Regions from separate parts of the Homo sapiens genome. Here region 1 is linked to region 2. Evidence: fine-mapped expression QTL. A gene starts in region 2. The other region holds a variant in brackets. All regions are shown on one strand. Distances are between the middles of the regions.

Region 1 (4,386 bases), 29 kb after region 2:
CAGGTATGTCCCTGAGCTGGGCACACGCCACTTGACTGTGTGGAAGAGGGTGGATGTCTGCACCAGCTCCAGATGCTGCTGGCACAGAAGAGGCTGCCCAAGCAGTGTTCGTGCATCCTGCCTCAGCATGCAGGAATCTTCTGCTCTCCCTTCCTCATTTGGGTACTATTCCTGGGACTCTCAGAAAAAGGCAACATGTTGTAGTGGGCAAAAGCTAAATCCAGTATCAGGCAGACCTGGATTCAAATTTCAGCTTGTCATGTACCTGGAGGACAGCTGGGGATCCATCGTCTCCAAGCCTCAGTCTCCCTCATCTGTGCTAGGCAGATGAGATTATGAGTTTCACAGGGTTTTAGAACTAAATTTACAAAACTGCAAAATACCTAGCCTAGCATCTGATACATAGCATACCTTTAAATAATGTGAGCCCCGGTTTCATCTTTTACCCATTCTCAGTGGACTTTGATGTAGCATCAGAGTTTTCTTACCCAGGCCAGTTGGGAAGGCAAAAGGCAGGGATGGCATCTGTGAAGAACATGCCCCTGGGCTGGTCACTGGTCCGAGGCCCGAGGCCTCCAAGCTCAAACCTGCCAGGTCACTGCGGGCTTGGCTCAGCTTCCCAGGCCTGCCCTCGGGGACCTCTGCAGCCCTACCTGGCTGTTCCATGCTCCTGGGCCAGCCTTCCCTCAGTTTCCACTCTGGACCAGAATCAGAGGCCAGAGCCAAGGGAGAGATTGTTTCTTTCCATCCAGCTGTGGAGATGGGGAAAGTAAAGGTAGGACTGCACTGACCGTGTCTTTTGTGGGACAGGCAGGACTTCCGGGCTGGGAGGAGGAGATCTTGTACCAGAGTCTCCAAAAGGCATCTGCCCCATTGCCTCTCTGCGCACCGCAGAGAGGGGTGTGCGGGCCCGTGGGTCCCGCCTGCACGCTCTGCTGTTCCAGGCGCTCGACCTCTTTGCCCCCTAGGTCAACGAGGGGAATCCACTCTGCCATGGGGAAGTCGCTGCCCCGTAGGGTATAAGAACTTCCCCATAGTTCACCCCTTCCTCCCTGGCCGCCCAGTCTGGAAGGGGAGCTGGAGAAGGCGGCGGGGGGTGGGGGGAAGGCGGGGGGGAAGGCGGGGGGGTGGGGCGGGCTTCTCTGGTTTCTTACCCTCCTGGGGTCAGGTTTCCTCAGCTCCCTCCCTTAAGGAGGGGAAATCGAGGAAGAGGCCCATCTCCATGGAAACTTTCTGGTAACAAGGCTGTGAAAGAGAAGGGGACAGGTGTTTCAGGAAGAAGGGAAGGCGCTGAGGATGGGCCTGGAGAGGAAGTGTCCCTGAAAGTGGTTTTGGGGCTGCCCGCGCCAGCGAAAAGCACGTGTCCCATTTCCTGCCGGAATGGCCAGAAAAGGTCTCCTCCCCGGCTCTGCCCCCTCTAGCTGAGTCCTGGACCTCTAGGGACTCCCACCTACACCCTTCCCATAAAGCCTGACCCAGCTGGGACGCAAAGGCTAGTGTCCCCCTCCCCGAGTCGGTAGGGGCTGGGGAGGGAGGTGGTATGGCCCGGAGCCCCAGGCCGAGGGCCCGGGCACCCGTGCATCCCCCCTTCTGCTCCCCATTCTCTCACAGGAGGGCCATGAAACGCAACGCCCGGCTGAGGTGCCCCTTCCGGAAGGGCGCCTGCGAGATCACCCGGAAGACCCGGCGACAGTGCCAGGCCTGCCGCCTGCGCAAGTGCCTGGAGAGCGGCATGAAGAAGGAGAGTGAGCAGTGGGCGCGCGGGCGGGCCGGCGCCGGGGTGCACGGCTCTGAGTAAGGACGTGCCGTGGGTGTGGGCATGCTTGTGTGGAGATGCGCGCCGAGTGTGCGCGTGAACACACGTGCACATGTGAGCTGGTGTCCGTGTGCAACAGGCAGCCACCTGGGGGAGCGCTTGCAGTCGGCCCTCTGGGAGATGGAGGGAGTCGGTAATCTCTGCCCTGGGATGTGTGCTGGGCAGCCCTGGACAGGGCGTGCCCTCTGTCTCCCCTCAGTTGCTCCTGCATCATTCTTTTTGTCCCCTTCATAATTGTTGTAATGGTTTGAAACCACATTTGCGGGTAGGAGTGTGAATCTGGGGGAGGGAAGCAGGAGCCACATGGGTGATAGGACCCGGGGCCTTCTAGGTGCTAGCCCCATCAGCTGCCCCAGACCTGGATCTTTATAGGGGAACTGTTTGCAGACAGGTGACATGAGGTGTTCTCATTCTACCTATTTAACTTTGATATATTTGTGCTCCTAGGTCACTATGAGATTAAGGCTCATGCGGAAAAGGCTAGGTGTTTCT[A/G]GTGCATATTTGTCTCCATGGAACACAAAGGGACCCAAAGCTGCTTCTTTCAAGGACAAGTTCTCTAGGCTGCTGGCAGGCATTCTTGATCTCTCCCCACCAAGGACCTCATAGCTTTGTTCTACACACATGAGTGGGCTCCAGAAATCCACAGAAGACCCTAAGGCTCTGGGCTATATAAGAAGTCTCTGGAGTTGCTATTTCTTGCTAAGCTGTAGCCCAGCTCTCTAGGGTCTTGGAGACCCAGACACCTCTGAAGAGTCTTGGTATATAATTCACCAGAAAATGATAATTGTAGATGCCATTTACTGAACATCTCTTATGTACCAGGAACTATATTAGGCACCCTACATGCAAGGTCTCATTTAACAGCGGTGCGAGGTAAACACGGTTTCTCCGGATCACAAAGGAGAAACCTGGAGGCAGGAGAGGTTAAGGAGGTTGCTTGGGGTCACAGGTAGTAAGTGGCAAAGCTTTCATGCAAACCCAGCGCCTTTGGATTCTGAAGCCCGTGCTCTTGCCAGGGCCCCACAGTGTCCTCACAAACTCCACTGCAGAGGGCAAAACACCAGCCTCACCTCATCTCTGTCCTCACCCAAGTGTTTCTCCAGAAGAGCCCACAGGCCTCTTGAGTCCAGACAGGGGAGAATTGCTTGTCACCATTACTTTCTCTTTTGCCTAACGGCTTCTGCTGCCTTGAGAGGGTTACACAGTGGCTCTCCAGGGGGCTGGAGGCTCACCAGGGGCACGTGTGCCTGAGCCAGCCTCACTGTCCCTGCAGTGATCATGTCCGACGAGGCCGTGGAGGAGAGGCGGGCCTTGATCAAGCGGAAGAAAAGTGAACGGACAGGGACTCAGCCACTGGGAGTGCAGGGGCTGACAGAGGAGCAGCGGATGATGATCAGGGAGCTGATGGACGCTCAGATGAAAACCTTTGACACTACCTTCTCCCATTTCAAGAATTTCCGGGTAGGAGGAACTGCACAGTGACCCGAGGTGTCACTGCCATCTTCATTCTCACATAGAAACTGAGGTTCCCCAAGGATAAGAAACTTATACAAGGTCACAGCTAATCAGTGGTGGAGGGTAGATTTGGAGAGCTGGTCCTGCATCTGTGCTAGCTCCTCAAAGCCTTAGTCTCATTCCCAAAGGTTCTGAAAGTGTGGTCCCTGGGTCAGCAGCATCAGCATGCAGATTTTCAGGTCACCTCAGATCTCCTGAATCTGAAGCTCCAGGGAGGGGCAGGACCCCCCGGTGATTCTGTTGCAGGTTCAGGTTTGAAAAATCACTGCTCTCTCCTTTAAGGCAGGTAGGAACTGGGTCTAAGCAATAAGTGGAGGGAAAGCTAGGCAGTTCCCCAGTGTTGCTGGCATTCGGGGCTTTATGAGGACAGGATCAGGACCTGTTGGGGGTGTGACTTTTGTGAACTGGTGTTTCTTGATCCCAGCACATTAACTATGTCTGTGCTCTAAGTGCCCTCCTTCCCCTTTGCACTGATAGATATCTCAAGTGGCCCTTCACAGCCCAAATAACTGGATTAGCCCAGTGACCTCAGATCTGCTCTTCCCATCCATAGCACCCTAAACCTTCTGAGTCTCCTGAGCCCAACATCTGGAATGCTTGGGATGACACACCATGGTTGCAGTCCCCCTTACCCTCCATTTTAACCAAGCAGGGATGTGTGTGACCATTAATTCATAGATCCCCAAAGCACCTTCATCTGATAGAGAACACCAGAGAGAAGAAACAAATGCTGTGTGTGTATATGTGTGAGGACACACGCATGCATGTGGGTGTGAATGCCTGCATTTGTGCATCCTCTCGAGCTGCAACTGTGGCTGTGCATGTTTGGCTGGGGCCTGAGTTGGGACCTGTCTATGAAAGCACATGCTGTCTCTCCTCTGTCCACCTCCTGGCATGTGTCCTAGCTGCCAGGGGTGCTTAGCAGTGGCTGCGAGTTGCCAGAGTCTCTGCAGGCCCCATCGAGGGAAGAAGCTGCCAAGTGGAGCCAGGTCCGGAAAGATCTGTGCTCTTTGAAGGTCTCTCTGCAGCTGCGGGGGGAGGATGGCAGTGTCTGG
Region 2 (4,386 bases):
CCCAGAGTTTGAGACCAGCTTGGGCAACATAATGAGACCTCGTCTCTACAAAAGAAAAACAAAAAAAAAAATTAGCCAAGCATGGTGGCACACACCTGTAGTCTCAGGTATTTGGGATGCTGAGGTGGGAGGATTGCTTTAGCCCAGGAGGTTGAGGCTGCAGTGAGCCATGACCATGCCACTGCACTCCAGCCTGGGTGACACAGCAAAACACTGTCTCAAAAAAAAAAAAGAAACTCTTCAGGCTGATCAGATCTGCTTTTCTCTGATGAGTTTCTTAGGAGCTCTACATTTCTGGTTGCTGCAATAGGCAAAGTATAGAATGGAGGTCAAGGCCTCAAATTTCTCTGACTTCCCAGCTGGGCTTGAGAGTGACTCTGGCCCTCAACTGAGGGCATTAGTAAGCTGTCCTTAAGAACGAGAGTGTATTTTCTGGCTGTATTCTTAACTCATTTCACTATAGAGCCATGTCTGATATTAACAGTGCAGTGCTAGACTAGAGAGGCCTGGCACTCCTACAGCCTTCTCCTGTCTTCTAGCTGGGACTTCACACCACAGACCCAAAGGAAAAGAGACCCAAAGATCCCTGCAGAAACCTGAGAATATTTCCTTTACCTCAGTGGTTTCATAATCTGTTCTTAGTTTCCTGTTTCTGCTGTAAATAATTCACTATATTTTTAAGAGAGAGAAGGTCAGGCCCTTGTGAGCCAGAAGGGATTTGAGAGATGATGAAAGCTACGTATGTTACCCATAACCTAAGGACTTCTGGCAAGGTGGCCTACCTGAGCTGGAGTCATGCCTTTTTTCCCTGGACTTGGAGATACCTGTCAGTGCAGAAAGGCCTACTTTTGATCTTGGAAATAAGTTTCCTGGGGTGAGTTCTTAACCCTTTCCAGCTTTCCCACCCTCTTTGGCTTTAGCCATGGCCTTCTGATCTGTGTTTCTCAGGGGACCTGCAGGCCCCAGATATAGCCCCATGCTGTCCTCCTACCCCAGAGCACACTGTTCAGGCTACTTCCACTGGTACTGAAATCCAGTATTTCACTTACTCTTTTTCTTTCCAATATCCTCATGACATTCAATATTTCACTTACTCTAGGTCCTCCCTGCCTAAGGCCCAAGTCAACTTTCTGTCCAGTGGGATTTGTAATCCAATACCTCCTAGCCCTAGCAGAATCCCATGTGGATAATCAGAAATGTGACTGGAAAAAGGACAGAGCTCTATGGCTGTGGGTCCCAGTCCCCACTGCTGGCAGTAAGTCCCCAGCAGTGAGCTGTGTAAGCACCTTACATTCTGCGCTTGGTTGAAAACAGCAAGGCAAGCATCCACTTGAGAAATGTCAACCCCTAGGAAATCCCAGCCTCAAGTCTTTCTCATCCCTTGGGAAGTGCAAATTGGATAGAGAAGAAACCAATTAAAAACAAAACAAACAAATCATACTTAGATATTCTGGCTTTTCTCACCAGGGCTGGATTAAAGCATGTACTTCAAAATAATAACAACTTAAGTCAATAAATAAATGTAAGGAAGTCCAAATGTTCACCTGAAGACAACTGTGGTCATTTTTTGGCAATCCCAGGTTCTCTTTTCTACCTGTTTGCTCAATCGTGGTCTCCCTCTCCCTCTCTTGTTGGGGCCCATGCCCCTGCTTTACTGTTGCCAGAGGCTTGTACTTGTTTGCCTTTTAGGTAGGAGCAGTTACTTCCACTCCCCTCACCTGCCATAAAGCATCTTTATAAACAAAGCAAGTAGAAGAAACACATCCTGGTATCCACCACATTCGGCTTTTGTTGATTCTGTTCACTTGGGAGCACCTGCTGCTAGGGAATAAGAAGGTTGAGGCTGAAGAGTGAGGACTCTTCAGCTCCCCTCTGGCAGGACCCGGGAGAGGAAAGAGCCCTCAGCTGGTCCATCCTCCCCACTCCTGGTCAGCCTTCTGTTCTGAGATCAAAGTGGTGGGGTCACATTCTCGAGAACTGTGCTCAGCCCCCTCATCTCACACCCTTTCCCTCTCCCTGTGTGCCTGCCCCCCTCTTACATAACCATGCTGGTGATTGGCACCGTCATAAATCAATACTTTGCTCACTTTCACATCAAGTAACACTATCCAGGGAGGTGGTTTCAACAAAGGAGGAAGTATAAGGAGATCTAGGTTCAAATTAATGTTGCCCCTAGTGGTAAAGGACAGAGACCCTCAGACTGATGAAATGCACTCAGAATTACTTAGACAAAGCGGATATTTGCCACTCTCTTCCCCTTTTCCTGTGTTTTTGTAGTGAAGAGACCTGAAAGAAAAAAGTAGGGAGAACATAATGAGAACAAATACGGTAATCTCTTCATTTGCTAGTTCAAGTGCTGGACTTGGGACTTAGGAGGGGCAATGGAGCCGCTTAGTGCCTACATCTGACTTGGACTGAAATATAGGTGAGAGACAAGATTGTCTCATATCCGGGGAAATCATAACCTATGACTAGGACGGGAAGAGGAAGCACTGCCTTTACTTCAGTGGGAATCTCGGCCTCAGCCTGCAAGCCAAGTGTTCACAGTGAGAAAAGCAAGAGAATAAGCTAATACTCCTGTCCTGAACAAGGCAGCGGCTCCTTGGTAAAGCTACTCCTTGATCGATCCTTTGCACCGGATTGTTCAAAGTGGACCCCAGGGGAGAAGTCGGAGCAAAGAACTTACCACCAAGCAGGTATGGTTTTTCTTTCTTTCTCTTTTGCTGGGGGCTGACCGCCCTTCAGCTCCAGCCAAAAGATGTGTGTGAACACAAATATACCTTCTGTTTGAGGTCAGCATCATAGTGGGTCGTGAATCATGTTGGCCTTGCTGCTGTCTCCTCATTTCTAGGGTGGAAAAAAAAAAGCATGAAAACAATCACTTAATGTTGAGCCCCATTACTGATGCTCTCTGGTCCTGCACTAGCCTCCTAGAAAAATCACCACAGGAGAAGCCTTAACTACTGCATGAGTTACCACAAGTCACACATACAACCAGCTCCCTGTTACAGGGCTGGAGTCCCTGGACCCAGGAAATACCACCTCCAAGGACTGTGGGAGCTGGGGACTATGGGAACTGGGATCAACTCAGTCCTGATTCCTTTTGGCCTGCTGGGTTAGTGCTGGCAGCCCCCTGAGGCCAAGGACAGCAGCATGACAGTCACCAGGACTCACCACTTCAAGGAGGGGTCCCTCAGAGCACCTGCCATACCCCTGCACAGTGCTGCGGCTGAGTTGGCTTCAAACCAGTGAGTTTTCTACCTCTACTATTGAAAGGGCACCTTGTCCCACAGAACCGAGTCTTGCCTGCATGTGGTCAGTGCCACCAGGTCCTTCTTCTCTCCACTTTACAGCCCAGCTCGGCTGAAGCTATGGCCAGAGGCACTGCTTTAAGGCCACTCCATATCTAGGACAGGTCAACAGACACCTCTGAGGCCACTGAGTCTTGACTCAATGAATCAGCTATAGCAGGCACTATTCCTCTCCCACATGGCCTCTAATGATATGGTCAGAGTTGAAAGGATGCTAAGGGAGGCCTCAGAGGCTTATTTAATCAGTTGGTTAATGGGAAAAAGTATTTTGTGGTACACAAATACGCTTTAAAAATATTTTAGTTATGTCATAAAAGTCTAAACCTGGGGTTGACAAACTATGGCTCACAGGCTAACTCTGGCCCACCAGCTGTTTTTATAAATGAAGCTTTATTGGAACACAGCCATGCCCATTCGTTATGTATTGTATATGGCTGTTTTTGCCCTACAACATCCTTTCAACTCTGGCCATATCATTAGAGGCCATGTGGGAGAGGAATAGTGCCTGCTATAGCTGATTCATTGAGTCAGCAAAATTGACCAATTGCGAAAGAGACAGTATGGCCCACAAAGCCTAAAATATTAACTATCTGGCCTTTAACAGAAAAAGTTTGCCAACTCCTGATCTAAAAGCTGTCAACTTGTTCCAAAATTATTATGGAATAAACCCAAGACAACCACAAAACTGACTAGACTAGGTTTTTTAGGTAATAACTTTTTAAATTATAAAGTAATACATGATTTCATGCTCCTTGAAAATGAGAAAGCAGTATAGATAAACCTAAATTCACCTTTGGCCATTCTGTCAATCCTAATCTCCAGTTTCCCCAAAAGTACTTAGTGTGATATATTTACTGCCAGACCATTGTGTCTGTGTGTGTGTTCATCTATGCATAGATGGACTATTAAACCTATCTGTTGCCATGTTGTTCTAATTCTGTTTTTCCACTCAATAGCAAGACTTGGAGACTTTCCATATCTGTATAGAGCTCTACTTCATTTATTTTAACTGCTACGTCATATTTCACAGTGTACACTTCTTTTATTTAGCCGTTTTCTTTTCGATAGATATTTA

The links. PIP is the estimated chance that this variant, and not a neighbour inherited with it, causes the effect.
Region 1: its variant is the best candidate, but not a certain one, in a credible set for the expression of NR1I2 in whole blood (TOPMed, PIP 0.86).

Annotation. Positions count from the first base shown.
Region 1 is chr3:119,808,450-119,812,835 of GRCh38, forward strand. It overlaps NR1I2 (nuclear receptor subfamily 1 group I member 2), which reads left to right. Exons shown (of 9, transcript NM_003889.4): 3 at 1,612-1,745; 4 at 3,090-3,277; 5 at 4,237-4,386. Among named protein-coding and RNA genes, the nearest start is that of NR1I2, 29 kb to the left of the region's middle. RefSeq lists enhancers at 1,247-1,750, 1,728-1,787 and a silencer at 1,258-1,517. The variant A/G (reference allele first, on the strand shown) is at 2,309.
Region 2 is chr3:119,779,605-119,783,990 of GRCh38, forward strand. It overlaps NR1I2 (nuclear receptor subfamily 1 group I member 2), which reads left to right and starts at 2,497. Exons shown (of 9, transcript NM_003889.4): 1 at 2,497-2,696.